Regions from separate parts of the Homo sapiens genome. Here region 1 is linked to region 2. Evidence: fine-mapped expression QTL. A gene starts in region 2. The other region holds a variant in brackets. All regions are shown on one strand. Distances are from middle to middle.

Region 1 (8,863 bases), 250 kb before region 2:
GTGAGAGGCCGTGTTTCTCAAGGAATTGGTCCATGATTTCTTCTAAGTTGTCAAATTGATTTTACAATGTATTTATTTAGAGTTGTTCATAATACTCACTACTCACTATCCTTTAATGCTCGTAGAGCCTATAGTGACACCCCGTTTTCATCCGTGAGGCTGCTGATTTATGTCTTCTCTCTTTTTCAAAGGACCATCTTTTAATTTCATTGATTTTCTTTAGTTTTACTGTCTTCAATTTTATTGGTTTCCACTCTTTATTATTTCCTTTTCTTCTGCTTCCTTTGGTTTTAATTTGCTCTTCTTTTACTAGTTTTTAAAAATTACCTTTGCTTTCTTGGTGTTACTTAATTGTACACTTGCATCATTTAGTTTTAATAATGGCTGTGTTTAACAACCAGCTGGCCACATTCTGAACCCTGCGGCTCCCTTGTGTGAGGTTCCCAGGCCTGGTCAGTATCCCCCACCCAGCCTCTCTCTCAGCTCCAGGCTGTCTGCTGCTGCCTGTCAGCACCCCCACCTGGATGTCCTGCTGACATCTCCATATAAACATCAACAGGGTCCACCTCAGAGCCCCAGTCACTCCCCTGTTCTCCAAGCTCCCACTCTGGTACCAGCTCCTCCCCACGCCCATCTGCTCCATCCCCTCGACTCCTCTCCCCACACCCTGCATCCCGCCAGCAGAGCCCTGAGCTCTGCCTCAGCCCCATCTGGAGTCTGCACACTTCTCACAGTCCTATGTCTTCACCCTGCCCCACATCCTTGTCCAGCTGCCCCCTGGATGCTGCCCTGGGCTCCCTGCCCCTCCTGGCCCCTGTGTCATCTATTCTCACCACAACAGTAAGAAAAGGTGAGGCCGGGCACAGGGGCTCACACCTGTAATCCCAGCACTTTGGGAGGTTGAGGCAGCAGGATCGCTTGAGCCCAGGAGCTCAAGACAAGCCTGGAAAACATAGGGAGACCTCTACAAAAAAATGAAAAAAATTAGCTGGGCGTGACAGCTTGCACCTGTGGTCCCAGCTACTTTGGAGGCTGAGGTGGGAGGACCACTTGAGCCTAGCAGGTCAAGGCTGCAGTGAGCCATGGTCACACCACTGCATTCTAGCCTGAGTGACAGAACAAGACCCTGTCTCAAAAAGAAAAAGGTGGGTTACATCAGGTCTCTCCTCTGCACCCAACTCTCAACAGCCCCACCTCAAAGAAAATCCCAGGTCCCTTCCACAGCCTCCCCAGGCGGCCCTCCCTTGCAACTCCTCCCTCGGTCTCTGCCTGCTCCAGGCCTGGTTCTCATGGCTTTTCCTGAAGTGCTTTGGCCTGTTCCTGCAGGACCTTTGCCTCTGCTATCCCCTTGTCTACAAAGCACCCCCATGGCTCACTGCTGCGCTCCTGTGCCTGGCCCCTCCTCAGAGGCCTTCCCCACCACTGAGGGGAAACAGCAGTGCCTACCCCTCTTCCCTTCCCACTGGGCTCTGTCTTCCTTGCCTGGCCCTCCCCTGAAGCATGTGTATTTATCATGGTCCAGCCCTCTCCCCTCCTGTCCTACCACTTCCTGCCCTAGAACAGTGCCTGGCTCGTAGTACCCAACCAGATTTGTTGAACAAATGAATGAATAAGCAGCAGCCCAGAGAACACCTGCTAGGATGAGGGCACAGCCCTTGGCAGGGCTGACAAGCTGCCGGAGGACCCGAAATTGTGGATTCTGCAAATGGCCACTCTCTGGCCTTCCTGTATCTTCCCAGGGCCAGAGCCCTTGCCCTGCCTGCCCCAGACTGGCCCTTCCAACTGCCCATCCCTGACTGCTACTCCTGCAGCCTGCAGGGCTTAGCCTGGCCATCACCAGCTCTGGGAGGCCTTTCCTTGGCTTCACCCAGCTCAGCAGACTTCTCAGCTCCAACTGCCTGACACACACGACTGCTCAACAGCCACAGTGTGAATGAAATAATGAATGAACAAGTGAACTCATAAAACCACAGCTGCTGAGGGATGGGGTGAGGACCTAGGCCCACCACCCTCCCTGCCATCCTCCCACACTAGGGCCCGGGTCAGCCCAGCCCAGGAGCAGGGACCCAATAATCACTGAGGGCCTGTGGGTGTCAGCCCAGCACACCTCTCAGCCCATCCCAAGACAGTGAGGACAGGAAAGCAGGCTCCAGCCCCACAGGAGGAAGTCCCACCTCCCCCGTCACCACTCCCTGCCTCACTTCGAGCCCCGGTCACACTCCTTGACCACAGTTCCCAGGATGGCAGCCAAAGGGAAGGCAGAGAAGGGGTTCCTTCCTGACCTGCAGACAACAAGCCGCGATGAATCAGGAGGCGGAGCCAGAACCCACCCCCAAGCAGCCCAAGCCCAGACCCTGGGGCGCCTCGCCACCCTCTCCCTGGAGGGTCTGCTTAACAGTCCAGAACGAACCTGGATGCGGCCAATGAGGAGAGAGACTGCAGCCCAACTCCCATTCCGATGCTCTGAGTGTGTGAGGGCAGAGTGCACGCAGTCCCACCTCCCAGGCCTCGGGCTCAGCAGCCTGGCGCTGGTCCAGCCCCCTCCCTACAGCCCCCAGGTGCCCGTTCCTCCATCCTCGCTCCCAGAAATCCTCTCAAGAGCACCTGGCCCAAAGCCTCCCTCTGCTTTACAGAATCGCTGCTGAGGGCAGCACACCTGGGGGCAGAGGGGACACTGGGGACTGCAGTTAGGCCCCTACTAGTGGCACTCCTCCCATAGGGACGCTTTCCACACCCCGGGCCAGACCCTGGTGGTCACAGAGGCCTCCAGGGCCAGCCTGGTCCTGACACAGCCGAGCGCCCGGCCTGGCCTCCCCACAAGGCCCCACACTCTCGCCTGTCCACTGTTCCCACTGTCCAGCCTTGGTGCTCACCTCTGAATGCTGAAAGCCTAGAATAGATTCATCCCCAGCCCAGCCCCAAGTCCTCCTGTCTTCCAAGCCTCTGCTGAGGCAGCCCCTCTCCCCATCAAACCTCACCTTGCCCCTTTCTCAAGTCTACGCTAGATCTTCCAACACTACCTCTAAAGCACCCCTTGACCTTGGCCTCATCCAGGCGCTGGCACCTCCTGTCTGAAACCTGCCTGCCCTGTTGTGGCCACACATGCCCGGCCATTTCTCGTGGTCCTCCCTCCGCTGCCTGTCAGTTCAACATCGTCCCCTTCTTGGCCTCCCATTCAAGCCTCCCACAGCACCATCAGCACCGCAGGCCCACTGCTGCCCCCACAGGCAGATCACTTGGCCTCTCTGAGCCATGATTTCCTCATCTGTAAAATCTACTTCGAAGACTCCTGCGAGGCTGTAAAGGCAGCAGGTACCCAATGGCTGGCAGACTGCGAGTCTGTTCCCCACTCTGCCCTAGCCCTGAGGCCTCCCGCCCTGGGGAAGCTGTTACTCCAGCATCAGCCTGGACTCCTGCCTCCAGCCTGCCCTGCTGGGAGGGGCTCCGTGCAGGCCGTGGCTCTGCTCCGAGCTTCCTGCGTGTCGTGTTGCGGCAAGAGGCGAGCAGGAGAGGGGCTGAGGAGAAGAGCCAGGTGGCCAAGCAAAGGGACTGCAGGGAAGGCCAACTACTGACCCCATGTTTTTCTGGGCCTCAATTTGCCCTCAGCTCAGTAAAACTGAGATTTCTACAAGTGAGGCCTAGAGCCAGGGAGAGGAGAGTCCTGCCCCAGACTGGCCCTCCCGACTTTACCACCTGGGGGCCGGAGGGGCTGCCTGGGCCCGCAAGAGCAAGCCTCTGGTGCACTGGGAAAGCTGAGAAACAAACACACCAGAATCCGAGTCTGAAAAGCCCAGAGCCCGGGTTGCCATGGCAACCTGCAGCCAGCTCCAGCCCGGGACTCCGCCAGCCTGGGTAGGGGCCGGGACTCGCCAGGCACGGCTGCTCCCAGCTCTGAGGCCTCCTCCTTGGGCTTGGCCCTGTTTCTGCTTGGACACAGAAGTGGTGCAAGGCCACAGAGAGGCACTTCTCCCCTGTCAGGTGGGCCAGGCAGGCCTGGGCTCCCCTGGGCTCCCACTGCCAGCTTTCTCCCAGAGTAAGGCCTGGCCCCTGGGCCTCCAGAGTCCAGCACCTCTCAGCACCCCACCCCGGCACCCATTGCTCCAGCACCCATCACTCCAGCAGCTGTCAAGCCCATCAGCTGCCTGGGTCACCACAGCACCAGTGTATGGACAGGCCTCAGGCGCCGGCCAGGTCAGCGGCCTTGAGGCTGTTATGTGGGCACCGATAGAGGGGCAGTGAGATGATTCCCTGCCTTACCTCACAGC[T/TG]GGGGGGTGCCAGCACTAGTGTGAAGCTTTCTACGTGATTTTTCTCCTTTAATGGCACTCCTGACAGATGAGGAAACAAGCTCAGAGCAATTAAGCGACTTCCCAAGGTACAGAGCTGCTGCTTGGTAAGAAGCAGAGACTTGCAACTCCTGGGCCCAGGTTCCTGCCCTGGAGCCTGTTCCTGGATGCCCTGGGCTGAGCCCTGCACGTCAGCAGAGCCCATCACCCAACCACTCACCTGACCCCCCGGCCACAGGGCTGTGCCCAGTCTACACAGACACACAGCAGAAAGAGGATGGCCTTCAGGTTTCCATTTAATGGCCAAGCCAGCACTGCCAAGATGTCCTCCTGCCTGAGAAGCCCACCCACGCTGGCACCCCTCAGCCTCACTAGCGGCATCCCAGTCCAGTCCTGGTGTGGGGCCTCATCTCAGCTCCTTCAGCAAGCTGTTGACAGAGCCCAGCAGCTCCTGGAAGTAGCCCTCGTCCTCACCATCCTGCAGCTCCAGGCTGGCCAGCACCTGGTACTCAGCCTGCAGGCTGGCCAGTGTCCTGCCGAGCTGGGGGTCCTGACGGTAGCGGTCCCGGCAGGTGGTCAGGAGGACGCCCAGTGTCTGCAGCACCTTCTCACGGGCATCATGCTCGGGCAGCGCCAGGAGGTGGGCCGTGATCTCGCACCAGCCCTGTTCCCACAGGCCTGGCAGGAGGTGTACCTGGCGATACTGCTGCAGCTTCTCTGGGGACATCTCCTGGGTCAGCTCAGCCTCCTCCTCGGCGAACATCTGCCATCCGCCACAGCCGCAGGCCAGGTAGGGTGGGGGTGGGGAGAGAACACACAGGGAGCAGTTAGCTCACACCTGGCTAGCTCTGCCCTTCAGACAGGAAGGCACGAGGCTGACCCCTGAGGGCCCACCTCTTCCTCTATCCCCAAGTCTGTCTGTCTATTCATTCATTCATCCACCAACAGAAACACTTGTGTGGTGCCAGGTGCTGAAGAAACCACGATGGAGACATAGTCTTACCCTCAAGGAGCTTAAGGTCTAGCAGGAGAATAAAAATTAACTAATTCCCAAATAGCATAAATGTAATCTAACAGTGCAGCATGGAGGCAGACAGGCTGGCTTCAAATTCCTGCTCCACCACTGACTTGCTGAATGACCATGGCTGGCACTTAGCCTCCCTGAGACTCATCGTCATCACCTCCTAAGTGGAGAAACTCAGCCTGTCTGTAAAGCGCAGAAGCCCAGCTCTATCAGCAGAACATGGTGGGAGCCAATCCTGCCGGGCTACCAGCAGCGGGAAAGCCAACACCTGAACCATGACAAGCAGGCAGGTTACCTGAAGGTCAGAGGTAGAGGGTTGGGAGGGGGCAGAGATCTCCCGTGCAGCTGTAGGAAGTGTGCCTGTATGGAGAAAGAAGGAATGCCTGCCCTAACTCCAGGGGAGAATGAAGCACAGGGAAGATGCACAAGGCAAGAGGGAAGCCCAGGAGAAGAGGAGGCCACAGTGGACCACCTGTGCTTCCTGCGGCAGCAGGAAGTCGTGGGGCTGATTGGGGCTGGCAGAGGAAACTGAGGAGGGGTGCAATCCTGCATCCTGGGACAGGAGAGGCTGAGAGGTATCCCCTAGTCCTTTCCTACTTCACCCCTCAGTCCTGCCAGCTTCGCTTCCAAAACACACCCCAATTCTGTCAGCTCCACCTTTGTCCCTTGTGTCCTGCGATCCAGTGCCTCCTGCTCTCACCCTCTCCTCCAGCCCCCAAACCCTCACAGCCTGGCATTGCGGGTGATAAAGACAAAATCAATCCCTTCCCTGGGACTGCGAGGCTCTGCAGGCTCTGCCCCCACTGTGCGCGGCCTGGACCCACTCACACCCACTCCTGTCACTCTAACTCTCCCCTGGGGCCTCTGGAGGCGCAGCTCCGACTTCCAGGTGCACCCCCGCATTGGCCCCATTCACTCCACGGCTCCCTGCACACCTCACCGCCACTGACCGGCCTCCCCTGACTGGCCTTCTCTGCTTATATGCTGCTGTGGTTTGAGTGTGTTCCCTAAAAGTTCAAGTGTTGGAAGCTTAATTCCCAAGGCAGCAGTATTGAGAGGAGCTGCCTAGGTCAGGAGGGCAGCGGGTTCCTTACGGGAGAGCGGTTGTTATTCTAGAGAGCAAGCCCGGCCCAGCATGCTTTTTTCCGCAAGTGCTCTTGCCCTCTCACCTTCCACAATGTTGTCATGCAACACAAAGGCTCCCGCCAGATGCACCCACCCAATCGTGGATTTCCCAGCCTCCCGAATCATGAGCCAAAAACTGCCTTTTCTTTATATTATCCAGTCCCGGGTATTCTGTTAAAGCAGCAGCAGACAGACTACAACACAAGCTCAGGGGAATTCTCTGATAAACATCTGCCTGAAAGCTCAGGGACGACAGGGACTGCGGATTATTTTCCCAGCACCCGGCACAGCAGGCAGCACAGGCAGGCAGGGTCCCCCTGCGGCCCTTCAGCTCCTCAGATGCACCAGAGGCCATGGAATCCAAACCCCAGGCAGGCATCTCACCACTGCAGAAGCCCAGATGTCAGGGCATGGTCTCTCAGTAGAGGTCCTCTCACAGGCCAAGGTACATATGAGGACTGCCTGGGGCCTGGCAGACCCCAGCACCCTGATGGGGGTGTCACATTGCCCATGGGAATTCCACAGTCCTTGGCTGTCATGACAACATGCTGCAGTGATCCCCGAGCTGCATGGCACCCCTCCATCGTGGTGGACAGCTCATGTCCCTCCACCTTCAGGCAGCTCTGGACCCACCCCTAGCTTGGCTAGGTCTTCATTCTTAAGCGCTGCAAGAGGCTGGACTTAGTGACTCACGCCTATAATTCCAATACTTTGGGAAGCTGAGGCAGGACTGCTTGAGCCCAGGAGTTCAAGACCAGCCTGAGCAACATAGTGAGACCCTGTCTACAAAAAACGAACAAAATTAACCAGGCATGGTGGCATGGACCTGTAGTCCCAGCTACTCAGGGGGCTGAGGTGGGAGGATCACTTGAGTCTGGGAGGCAGAGTTTACAGTGAGCCAAGATCGTGCCACTGGGTGACAGAGAGAGACCCTGTCTCAAAAAAAAAAAAAAAAAAGAAAAAAGAAAAGAAAAGAAAAAAGAAAAAAGAAATCACAAGAACAGAGAAGCCCTGACTGCCTCAGCCCAAGTACAGTGTGTCCTAAATCTCTCTGGCTGAAATTTATCTGCTGTCCTCCCTGAAAGAAGAGGGCCATTTCTGTACTGTTTGTAGAGAGATGCCAGTCCTCCCCTCCCCAATCATGTCAGCACCCCAAAGCTTCCAGAGGCAGGCTCCCGGGGCCGGCAGCCTCGGGGCAGCCTTGGTGAGCCTGCCTGGTGGTAGTGTGCTAGCAATGTGTCAGTGCCATAGTGCCCAGGATGCCAGGGCTGGGGGCAGCAGGGACACACACCCAAGACACCAGAGAACAGAGCCCAGTTTCCCTGGGAAATGCCCAGCCAGCTGACATGTCCTTCTCCAGGCTCACTGGCCCAGTCCCAGAACCTGAACTGTGCCCAGGCCTTATCAATTGGATCTGAGCACCACATGGCTGCCTGCTGTTCTAAGAAACTGGATTTCTGCAGCTTTAACAAGAGAAGAGAGAGAAACAGGCAAAGACAGAGAGTTGGGGAGAGACAGTGATGGACAGAGGTGGCCACAGCCATCCCGACACTGCCTGGGAGAGAAGGCCTGGGGGAGGCGTGTGCAGAGGGAGTGAGGGGCCCAGCCTCCACCATTCGGCAGCAGTTCCAGCGGCTGCCCAGCCCTGCTCCACTAGTCGGCATGCGGCTCTTCTGGGGAGCGTGTGGCCCGAGAGAGGCAACTGAGGAAGCCCTGCCAATGCTCTCTGCAGTAGCTGAATTAAGAATCCAGGCCTGGCTGGTTTTCCTCTCTCCTCCTTAATTAAGATGCTTCTTCAAGCTTGCAAACAGGGCTGGGCACCAAGTCTCCTCCCAAGTGGCAAGCAATTGGGTCCCTGAGACTCTCAAGGGCAGCCACTCTGAGGCCCTGCCCAGAGCCAAAGCTCACAGAGGAGGCACCTCCACGTTTCTAGAATCCGAAGAGTGAGTGCCATTCGAAGGAGCTCTGGGCTGTTCTACCCCCTCAGCCTTTTGTCCCCTCGGGGCCTGGTCTCGGCTGCTCCAAGGCTTGCCTCATACTGAGCCCTCTGCCTGCACACTTGGCCGTGACCATGGCTGGCAGGGCCACCTCCCACTCCTCATCAGCCCTCAGGTTTCAGCTTAGCCACCACATCTCACATGACATACTCCCTGACGTCCCCAATCTCTTCCAACTGTCTGTCTGTCCATCCATCCAGAAGCACACACAAAGCAAACAAGTGACGTCCGCAGTCTCTTCCATCTGTCTGTCCATCCACCCAGAAGCACACACAAAGCAAACAAGAGGAGACTGGGTGGGCCTGGGCACTCACCTTCTCCGTGACCAGGTCGTAGAGCAGTGTGACCACGCGCACGGCGAGCACCTCCGTGCCCTTCTCCTGCACCAGGGTCCTCAGGACCTGCAGCCCCCCGAGCTTCAGGAACTGCCGCTG
Region 2 (8,964 bases):
ACTACAAGAGACTGGCAGACAGCCTCTGCAGCAAAACTTCACTTAGGAAAGGACAGAAAATGAATGAAGAAAGACAGGGGGAGGCTGAGCAGGTCAGAGTATGAATCCACAAGTATGTGAAAAAGAGAATCCACCTATTTCGAAAAAGGTACAACTTCCTTTCAGAGCCTTTTTTTTTTTTTTTGAGACAGAATCTCTCGCTCTATCACCCAGGCTGGAGTGCAATGGCACAATGATCTCGGCTCATTGCAACCTCCGCCTCCCGAGTTCAAGTGATTCTCCTGCCTCAGCCTCCCGAGTAGCTGGGATTACAGGCATGCGCCACCACGCCCGGCTAATTTTGCATTTTTAGTAGAGACGGGGTTTCTCCATGTTGGTCAGGCTGGTCTTGAACTCCCGACCTCAGGTGATCCACCCACCTCAGCCTCCCAAAGTGCTGGGATTACAGGTGTGAGCCACCGCACCCGGCCAGAGACTCTCATGTTCTTTTGAATATTCTCATTAACGGCAAATCTTCATTCTTTGAGGGTGAAAACATTTATTGCATTCCTATGTCCCAAGAGCTTTCATGTGTAATACGTCATTTAACCACCCTTCAAAGTAAATATTATTCCCAGTTTTTTTTGTTTTGTTTTGTTTTGTTTTGAGACGGAGTCTCGCTCTGTCGCCCAGGCTGGAGTGAATGGCGTGATCTCCGCTCACTGCAAGCTCCGCTTCCCAGGTTCACGCCATTCTCCTGCCTCAGCCTCCTGAGTAGCTGGGACTACAGGCACCCACCACCTCGCCCGGGTAATTTTTTGTATTTTTAGTAGAGACGGGGTTTCACCGTGTTAGCCAGGATGGTCTCGATCTCCTGACCTCGTGATCCGCCCACCTTGGCCTCCCAAAGTGCTGGGATTACAGGCGTGAGCCACCATGCCCGGCCCTATTCCCACTGTTATGTAGTGGTACATTGAGCCCCAGAGGTGAAGTAACTTATCCAAGGTTATGTGGCTAATAAGTGGTAGACTCAGAATTAAAACTCATGTTCACCACCCTCCAAAAATCTGTTATTTCCACTTCAAAAGAACTGTTAACTCATCTGAAGACAAGGCAGGTGACAAGGTTGCTTACCCATGCCATTCGGGGTTAAATATATATAGGCTGTGTGCAGTGGCTCACGCCTGTAATCTCAACATTTTAGGAGGCCAAGACAGAAGAATCGCTTGAGGCCAGGAATTCAAAAACAGCCTGGGCAACACAGCGAGACCCTGTCTCTACAAAAATTAAAATTACAAAATTAGCTGGGCCTGGTGGTGCGCCCCTGTAGTCCCAACTACTCAGGAGGCTTTAGTGAGAGTATTACTTAAGCCCAGGAGTTCAAGGTTGCAGTGAGCTATGATTATGCCACTGCACTCCGGCCTGAACCACAGTGTGAGACCCCATCTGAAAAATAATAATAATAATAATACAGTATGGTTTAATATATTAAAGAAACTGATCTCTCGCATGGTTCAAAAAGGTCTCTGAAAACAATTCCAGAGGTGGATTTTCAAAACTGCCTTGGACAACAGCCAAATCACTTAGGCACGCCATCCTCAACTCCCACCACCTACACCTGCACACATCACTCTAAAGGAGAACATTCATTGGTGGATCAAGTTCCCACATGTCAGTTATTTTAAAATCCATTTTGTTACCTTTCAGTTTCACTTAATTAGCCTCTTCTCCTGCCAATGAAACACACCAGGGCTCACAGTTGGCCTCAGTAGAGAAGTAATAGCTGGCCTTCAGAAAACAGCAGGGAAGGGGAAGTAAGTGGGAATCAAAGTACTAGGCAACTTTTCATTCCTGGACTGCCGCATCCCTACTAACATTTCCATCACCTGTAAAATGGGAGCAGAACGTCTCTTCTATTGCCAATTTCATTAAAACAGCACATGTATTCATGAGCAGATTAAATTCACTAAACAAATGAAAGAAAGGGGAAATAAATGTGGTGTGGTAACACCATCTTAAAAACCCGAGAGCCATGTTCTCAAAACCACAGACCAAGTTCTGACCCATGTTATACAAATATCAATCCCAATATCGTTACACTCTGGCTCCCATCAAAATCCTACCCAATCCCCAAATCTGGCTATACTTTTATCAGAAAAGAAAAAAACTTGGGTGGGGTGAGAGCAGAAAAGACACACACACACAACAAAATATCTTTCACAATGTCAAAAAAAAACCTGTTTATATGCCAGGCGAGGTGGCTCATGCCTGTAATCCCAGCACTTTGGGAGGCCGAGGTAGACAGATCACCTGAGGTCAGGAGTTCGAGACCAGCCTGATCAACATGGAGAAACCCTGTCTCTATTAAAAATAGAAAATTAGCCGGGCACGATGGCGCATGCCTGTAATCCCTGCTAATCGGGAAGGTGAGGCAGGAGAATCGCTTGAACCTGGGAGGCGGAGGTTGCTGTGAGTCGAGATGGCACCATTGCACTCCAGCCTGAGAAACAAGAGCGAAACTCCGCCTCAAAAAAAAAAAAAAAAAAAAAAAACTGTTTATAAACACATCACTTTCTTCTCTTAGCAAATATGTAAGTTTCATTCTCCTCCTGTCTACTTAGTTTGGGTTAACTTAACCCCCGCCCCATCTCTCAGATCATGTTTTTATTTAGGTTTATTGAGGTGGGAAAGCCAACTGAACTTTAAACGAAGCCAGGCATTTAAGAATATTAGAAAACTGATCTTACATATATAGGTAGTCAAATATTTTTAAAAGACATCAAATGGCATTCTAATTCCTCCGGTGCAAAGAAAGCCCCAGCCTCACACGTGTTAGCATTTCCTGATTCCTGGCTTTTCCCACTCAGAGCCCCATTCCAGGGGCTCATATGTCAAGTCATTCTCTCCTGACTTCTGAAGCAGGGATTTTCAAAGCCAGGATTCCGGGACCACCTGAATGAGAACCCCCTGGGGTACAGCTGCCCACGCACCATCTTATCGGAAATCCCAGGGAATGGAGCCCAAGGCTTATGCACAAAGCCCCTAGACGATCCGAGAGATAACACTAACCAGTCTGTAACCTCTAAAGGCAAATTTTCCAGGACAAAGAAAAACAAGCAATAAGAGAGTGACAATAATTCCACATGGGAAGAGACACACGGGTCTCGGAGATCAACACCAAACCACCCCTTCTTCGGACAGATACGGAAACTTAGGCTGGGAGAATGAAACAGGCAAGGGCACTAAAAACAGGTGCGGAGCCAAAGCCAATCTCAAATTTCCACGGCCCCATCTCCTGCCAATAAAGAGGTGAATGGAGACATTCTGAGTGGGAAAGATAAGAAAGGTAGGCCTTCGGCAGGGAGCCCCGGGCCCACTTGGACGTCCCGCTTTGGAGACACTAGTGAGGATGTGTGGGTCCCCAGAACACTGCTGGGAAGGCGCCGAGGCCGCCGGCAGGAGGAGGCCCAGGAAGCGCCCTGAGCCCCCCGCCCAGCTCCAGGGCCGGGCGGCCCTCACCGCCCCTACCTTCGGCCTCCGGCAGCCGAGTGGCAGACACAACTCCCACAATTCCAGGCGGCCGCGGCGGCGACCAGCTCCCCCTGCGCAAACGCGGCGGCGACCGTCTGAGCCGGTGAGCTGGCAGCTGTCACGCCGCTCGCGGCCTCGCCCAATCGCGGGCCGCCAGACCAGCGCGCGGCGCCCCCCGCCCCGCACCGAGGTGGGAGCCCCGCCCCTAGCCCCGCCCTCTGCAGACTCTTGCACGAGCTGCCCCCGTGCCCCTCCCCTTGGGGGGAGGGAGGGCTGAAGAGATAGCTTCACGCCTGCTTTTGCTTCCAGGCTGGAACTGCGAAGTTTCCTGTCTGATTTTCCAACAATGTAATTTCTTTCTAGCGGAAGGACCCTCAGAAAGCAATCAGAGGGGTGCGGAGTAAAAATAAATCAAGTTCTTGTGACTCAGTTTGGGACAGAAGCCGAGAGTCTCCAGCAATAAAATTTCTCGCAAATTCATGCAAAATAGGACACCTTTAAGCCACTCACTTTATATACTTGTGTAGATTTTTTACAAGGACCAGTTATTTTAAAAATAGCATCAGGTGGCCGGGCGCGGTGGCTCACACCTGTAATCCCAGCACTTTGGGAGGCCCAGGCAGGCAGATCACTTGAGGCCAGGAGTTCAAGACCAGCCTGACCAACATGGTGAAACCCCCGTCTCTACTAAATATACAAAAATTAGCCAGGCGTGGTGGCGAGCGCCTGTAATCCCAGCTACTTGGGAGGCTGAGGCAGGAGAATCGCTTGAACCCACCAGGCAGAGGTTGCAGTGAGCTAAAATCGTGCCACTACACTCCAGCCTGGGTGACAGAGTGAAACTCTGTCTCAAAATCTAATAAAATAAAATAAAGGTCACTTGCGATTCTGATTTTTTTTTAAGACAGAATCTGTGTCCCCCAGGCTGGAGTGCAGTGGCAGGATCTTGGCTTATCACAGCCTTGACCTCCCAGGCTCAAGGGATCCTCCCCCTCAGCCTCCATCCAGTAGCTGGGACCACAGGCGCGTGCCACCGTTGCCAGGCTAATTTTTTTTTTTTTTTTTTTTTTACAGACAGGGTCTCGCTATGTTGCCCAGGCTGGTGTCAACGCAGTTGTAATTCTGCTGTACCAGTGAATATCATGCTTTCTGTACCAGGTGCTGCATATATATTTTATTTACTTATAACGTCCTCTGAGCAGAATGGTCATCCCCTTTTTATAAATGGAGAAGCTGACGCTCAAAGAGGCTAAAGGAGTTATACAAAGTCATACAGTCAGGAAGTGGTAGAACTGGGAGTTAAAGCTAGATTTAAGTGTCTCCAATGTCCTGTTCTCTTTCCACTATTCCACTTTTAGACCTTCCCCTTGCCTAGACATGCTTAACCTGATGAATAAAAATGACTGCCCCCTCCTGCCCTCAGATCCCCCACATAGTGATTCCTGGTCATTCATGAGTGGAGAAAACAGTAATCCAGACAGTTACCTCCCCAAATGGCAAGTATTTCCCAATAGCAAACAACCTATTTCTGGACTTCCCTTCCCTTTTCCATGTACTCTATGAGCTTCTAGCAGACAATTTACCTTCTTGATTATGTTTACTTCAAGCAGATGGGAAACTGACTTCATAGCCACTGAGCAAACCTTGGTTACTAGTATGGGAAGGGAGAACAAGCCCCTGGGCAGTAGTTCAGTGAATAGTGCCAGTTTATGAGAAAGGTCTAGATAAAACACCTAGGGCCTGATTTGGAAAGAGAACAGCTCACTTTTCCCCTGGAACACCCAGGAGACCAGTGAGAAGAACTGGGCCTAAGAATAATTCTAGCTTATGTCACTGCCTAGTACCATAAGTACAGATAATAAATATTCAACAAATATTTCATGAGTGATAAATTAGAGAATGAACATATAAATTATAATAAGACTGGCACGAGTTATAAAAAAGATGTTAATAAAGTGCTACAAGAGTAAGAGCCTTAAAAATAGAATAAGCTCAAATCTTATAATAGCATGAATAAATGAATGCTTGGGCCAAGAGAAGAGTCCAGCTGAACACAGCTGCCAGCGCTCAAAGCGGGGCCTTTCTCCTTGGGACGGATCTAACCAGCTCAGGTATGTGGTAGGAAAGGGATAGTCTGTCTCCCACTGCCACCCCAGGCCTGGTCTCCAAACCTTGAAAAGCTCTGCCATGGTCTGAATGTTGGTGTCTCCCCTAAATTCATACATTGGAACCTCATATCCAATGTGATAGTATTAAAAGGTGGGCAGGTTGGGCCAGGCATGGTGGCTTCCGCCTGTAATCCCAGCACTTTGGTAGGCCGAGGCAGGCGGATCACAAGGTCAAGAGATTGAGACCATCCTAGCCAACATGGTGAAACCCCATCTCTACTAAAAATACAAAAATTAGCTGGGTTTGGTGGTGTGCACCTGTAGTCCCAGCTACTCAGGAGGCTGAGGCAGGACAATCGCTTGAACCTGGGAGGTGGAGGTTGCAGTGAGCCAATATCGCACCACTGCACTCCAGCCTGGCGACAGAGCAAGACTCCATCTCAAAAAAATAAAATAAAATAAAAATGGTCAGGTTGAAGGGAGCTGCCTTGCCCCTTCTGCCGTGGAAGGACACAGTGATCTCCCCTTCCACCATGTGAAGCAAGGCAGCAAGGCACCATCTTTGAAATAGAGAGCAAGCACTCACCAGCCCCTAAATCTGTTGGCACCTTGATCTTGGATTTCCTGGTCTGTAGAACAGTGAGCAGTAAATTTCTGTTTGTAAATTACCCAGCCTAAGGTGTTTGTTATAGTAGTCCCAACAGACAAAGACATACCCTGACAGAACTACCTTCTCAGAGGAACTTGCTCTGAACTTGCTCTGAAATCAAGCCTCTTGAGTTGCTGAAGCCAGTGTGCAAGGTTGAACCTAAGCAGACAGCCTCTACTTACACGGCCTTAAGCAAGGAGGCCCACTGTAAAGGTGAGAAGTTTGGGTGCAAGTCCAGTGATCACAGTGGGTGCTGGAATTTTGGTAGTCTCCTCTCTTTGTTTCCTTATATAAGTCTTGGAATTGAGCAAAAGTAAGTTTAAAATTTCCTTTTAGGCTGGGCGCAGTGGCTCACGCCTGTAATCTCAGCACTTTGGGACGCTGAGGCAGGCGGATCACCTGAGGTCAGGAGTTGAAGACCAGCCTGGTCAACATGGCAAAACCCCGTCTCTACTAAAAAATACAAAAATTAGCAAACCATGGTGGTGGGCGCCTGTAATCCCAGCTACTCAGGAGCCTGAGGCAGGGAGAATTGCTTGAACCTGGGAGGTGGATGTTGTAGTGAGCCAAGATCACGCCACTACACTCCAACCTGGGCGACAGAGCAAGACTCTATCTCAAAAAAAAAAAAAATCCTTTTAAATAAGTAAACAACAGGCTAAAAACCACCTCTCTCTTGCAGTTCTGTTGGGGAGTTTCTAGAATCCCTCTTCCACTCCCCAGAAGAGCAAAGGAAGGCTTGGAAGGGTAGAGAGACTGAGGAATCACCTTCAACCCGGCCACCATCAATCAAATCAAAGGAAACCACAGCACCTACCCCCAGAGCCCTGGCTAGGCGGAGATTTATAATCAATTTGGCCTTCCTCAACAAGCAGAATATGTTGAGTAGATCATTTCTCCTCTGATCAGCCTTTCTCAATTAATCTCCCACAAGCCTCACACCCTGTTGTGTGAAAGTATTCCTGGCTTCAGGAGTTGGCTCCCTGCTCTCTCTGGATGGGCCTCAAATGTTGAGTGGGGAGCAGGAGCCCTCACTTTGTCTCACCACTGTATTGATCTGCCTCCTCCCCTCGGCCCCTTCCTCTTTGCCCACCCAGCTTTCACCACACAACTCAGATCCTGCTGCCAGGAGTCCCTTCTGGACTGCAGACATTTTATTCACTTGAACATGAGCACCAAGCTACATGCCAGCCATTGGCTGTGGGGGTACAACTGTGAAACAGTCCTACTGGTTCTTACCCTCGAAGAGCTCAGGGTCAAATGAGAGACACAGAAATGTAAACAGATCAAAACAGCCTGGCAAGCACCATTTAACAGAAATATTAACGGGCTAGGTGCAGTGGCTCACGCCTATAATCCTAGCACTTTGGGAGCCAAGGCAGGCGGATCACTTGAGCTCAGGAGTTCGAGACCAGCCTGGGCAACATGACAAAACCCATCTCTACCAAAAATAAAATAAAAAAATAAAATAATTAGCTGGGCATGGTGGCACATGCCTGTGGTCCCAGCTACTTGGGAGGCTGAAGTGGGAGGATCACTTGAGCCTGGGAGGTGGTTTCAGTGAGCTAAGATTGCACCACTGCACTCCAGAGGTTCACACTGCTGTCTTTTCAGATCCCTTTTGTGAGTAAAGCCCTTTCACATTTATCACCTTGTTTGTTCCAGACACCTCTGTGAGGTAGGTGGGGCAGATTTATTTTGCAGATGAACAAAAACTCTTCCCACTGAACTCTTCAGAGCTGTGTTGTCCAATATGGTAGCCAATTGCCGCATGTTGTTTAGATTTAATTAAAATTAAATAAAAGTTAAAATACAGTTTCTTATTTACACTAGCCACATTTCAAATGCTCAGTCCACTATACTGGACAACAAAAATGATGGAACATTTCTATGAAAAAGCTCTATTGTGGCCGGGCACGGTGGCTAACGCCTGTAATCCCAGCACTTTGGGAGGCCGAGGCAGGCAGATCACCTGAGGTCGGGAGTTTGAGACCAGCCTGACCAACATGGAGAAACCCCCTGTCTACTAAAAATACAAAAATTAGCTGGGCATGGTGGCGCATGCCTGTAATCCCAGCTACTCGGGAGGCTGAGGCAGGAGAATCACTTGAACCTGGGAAGCAGAGGTTGCGGCAAGCCGAGATCACGCTGTTGCACTCCAACCTGGGCAACAAGAGCGAAACTCCATCTCAGAAAAAAAAAAAAGCTCTATTGTCTAACAGTGCTTGAGAGGTCCTGAGAGGCAGTGCTACGGCAGGGGTGTGAAGCCAGAGCACTCAGCATTCCCAGAAAAGCTAAGTCAAGGGGCCAACATGGAAGAAGCAGGAAGCTAAGGGGCACTCCAGGGGAAATCAGGAGAACTGCTCCCGAACCAGATTCCTCCACTTCCTGGGCTGCACTCAGATGGAGTGGGCTGCTGTGGCCAAGGCAGGGCAGAGACCAGATGATCTCTACTGTGGGACCCAAGCAGCACCTGAGCAGCTTCTTCCTGGCATTCAAGAATTCTAGATCTCTCCACCCCAAGAGGCTTCAAGGACTCCAGTAACTGTGCTTTTCTCTGTCTCTGGCTTATTTCTGAAGGCCTCAGAAGCAGAAAAGGGGGAGAAAAAAAAGCATTTCCAGCCCCTCTGAAAGGGATGTGAGGGTTCTGGATGGCAGCCTCCCACCTGCTTGGAAGTCTTTGGCAGCTCCAAGGGG

Alleles and levels. Alleles are on the strand shown, and positions count from the first base shown. SD is a standard deviation of normalised expression in the study named.
For the expression in stomach of the gene that starts at base 3,607 in region 2, T is the low allele of the variant in region 1 and TG is the other (small effect, 0.30 SD a copy in GTEx).

Evidence for each region.
Region 1: its variant is fine-mapped to the expression of SIL1 in stomach (GTEx, PIP 0.98).

Annotation. Positions count from the first base shown.
Region 1 is chr5:138,942,428-138,951,290 of GRCh38, forward strand. It overlaps SIL1 (SIL1 nucleotide exchange factor), which reads right to left. Exons shown (of 10, transcript NM_022464.5): 9 at 8,744-8,863; 10 at 4,297-5,046. The coding sequence ends at 4,690. Among named protein-coding and RNA genes, the nearest start is that of LRRTM2, 72 kb to the left of the region's middle. RefSeq lists a silencer at 1,770-1,982 and an enhancer at 6,422-7,286. The variant T/TG (reference allele first, on the strand shown) is at 4,266.
Region 2 is chr5:139,194,762-139,203,725 of GRCh38, forward strand. SIL1 (SIL1 nucleotide exchange factor) reads right to left here and starts at 3,607. Exons shown (of 10, transcript NM_022464.5): 1 at 3,508-3,607. RefSeq lists a silencer at 3,283-3,812.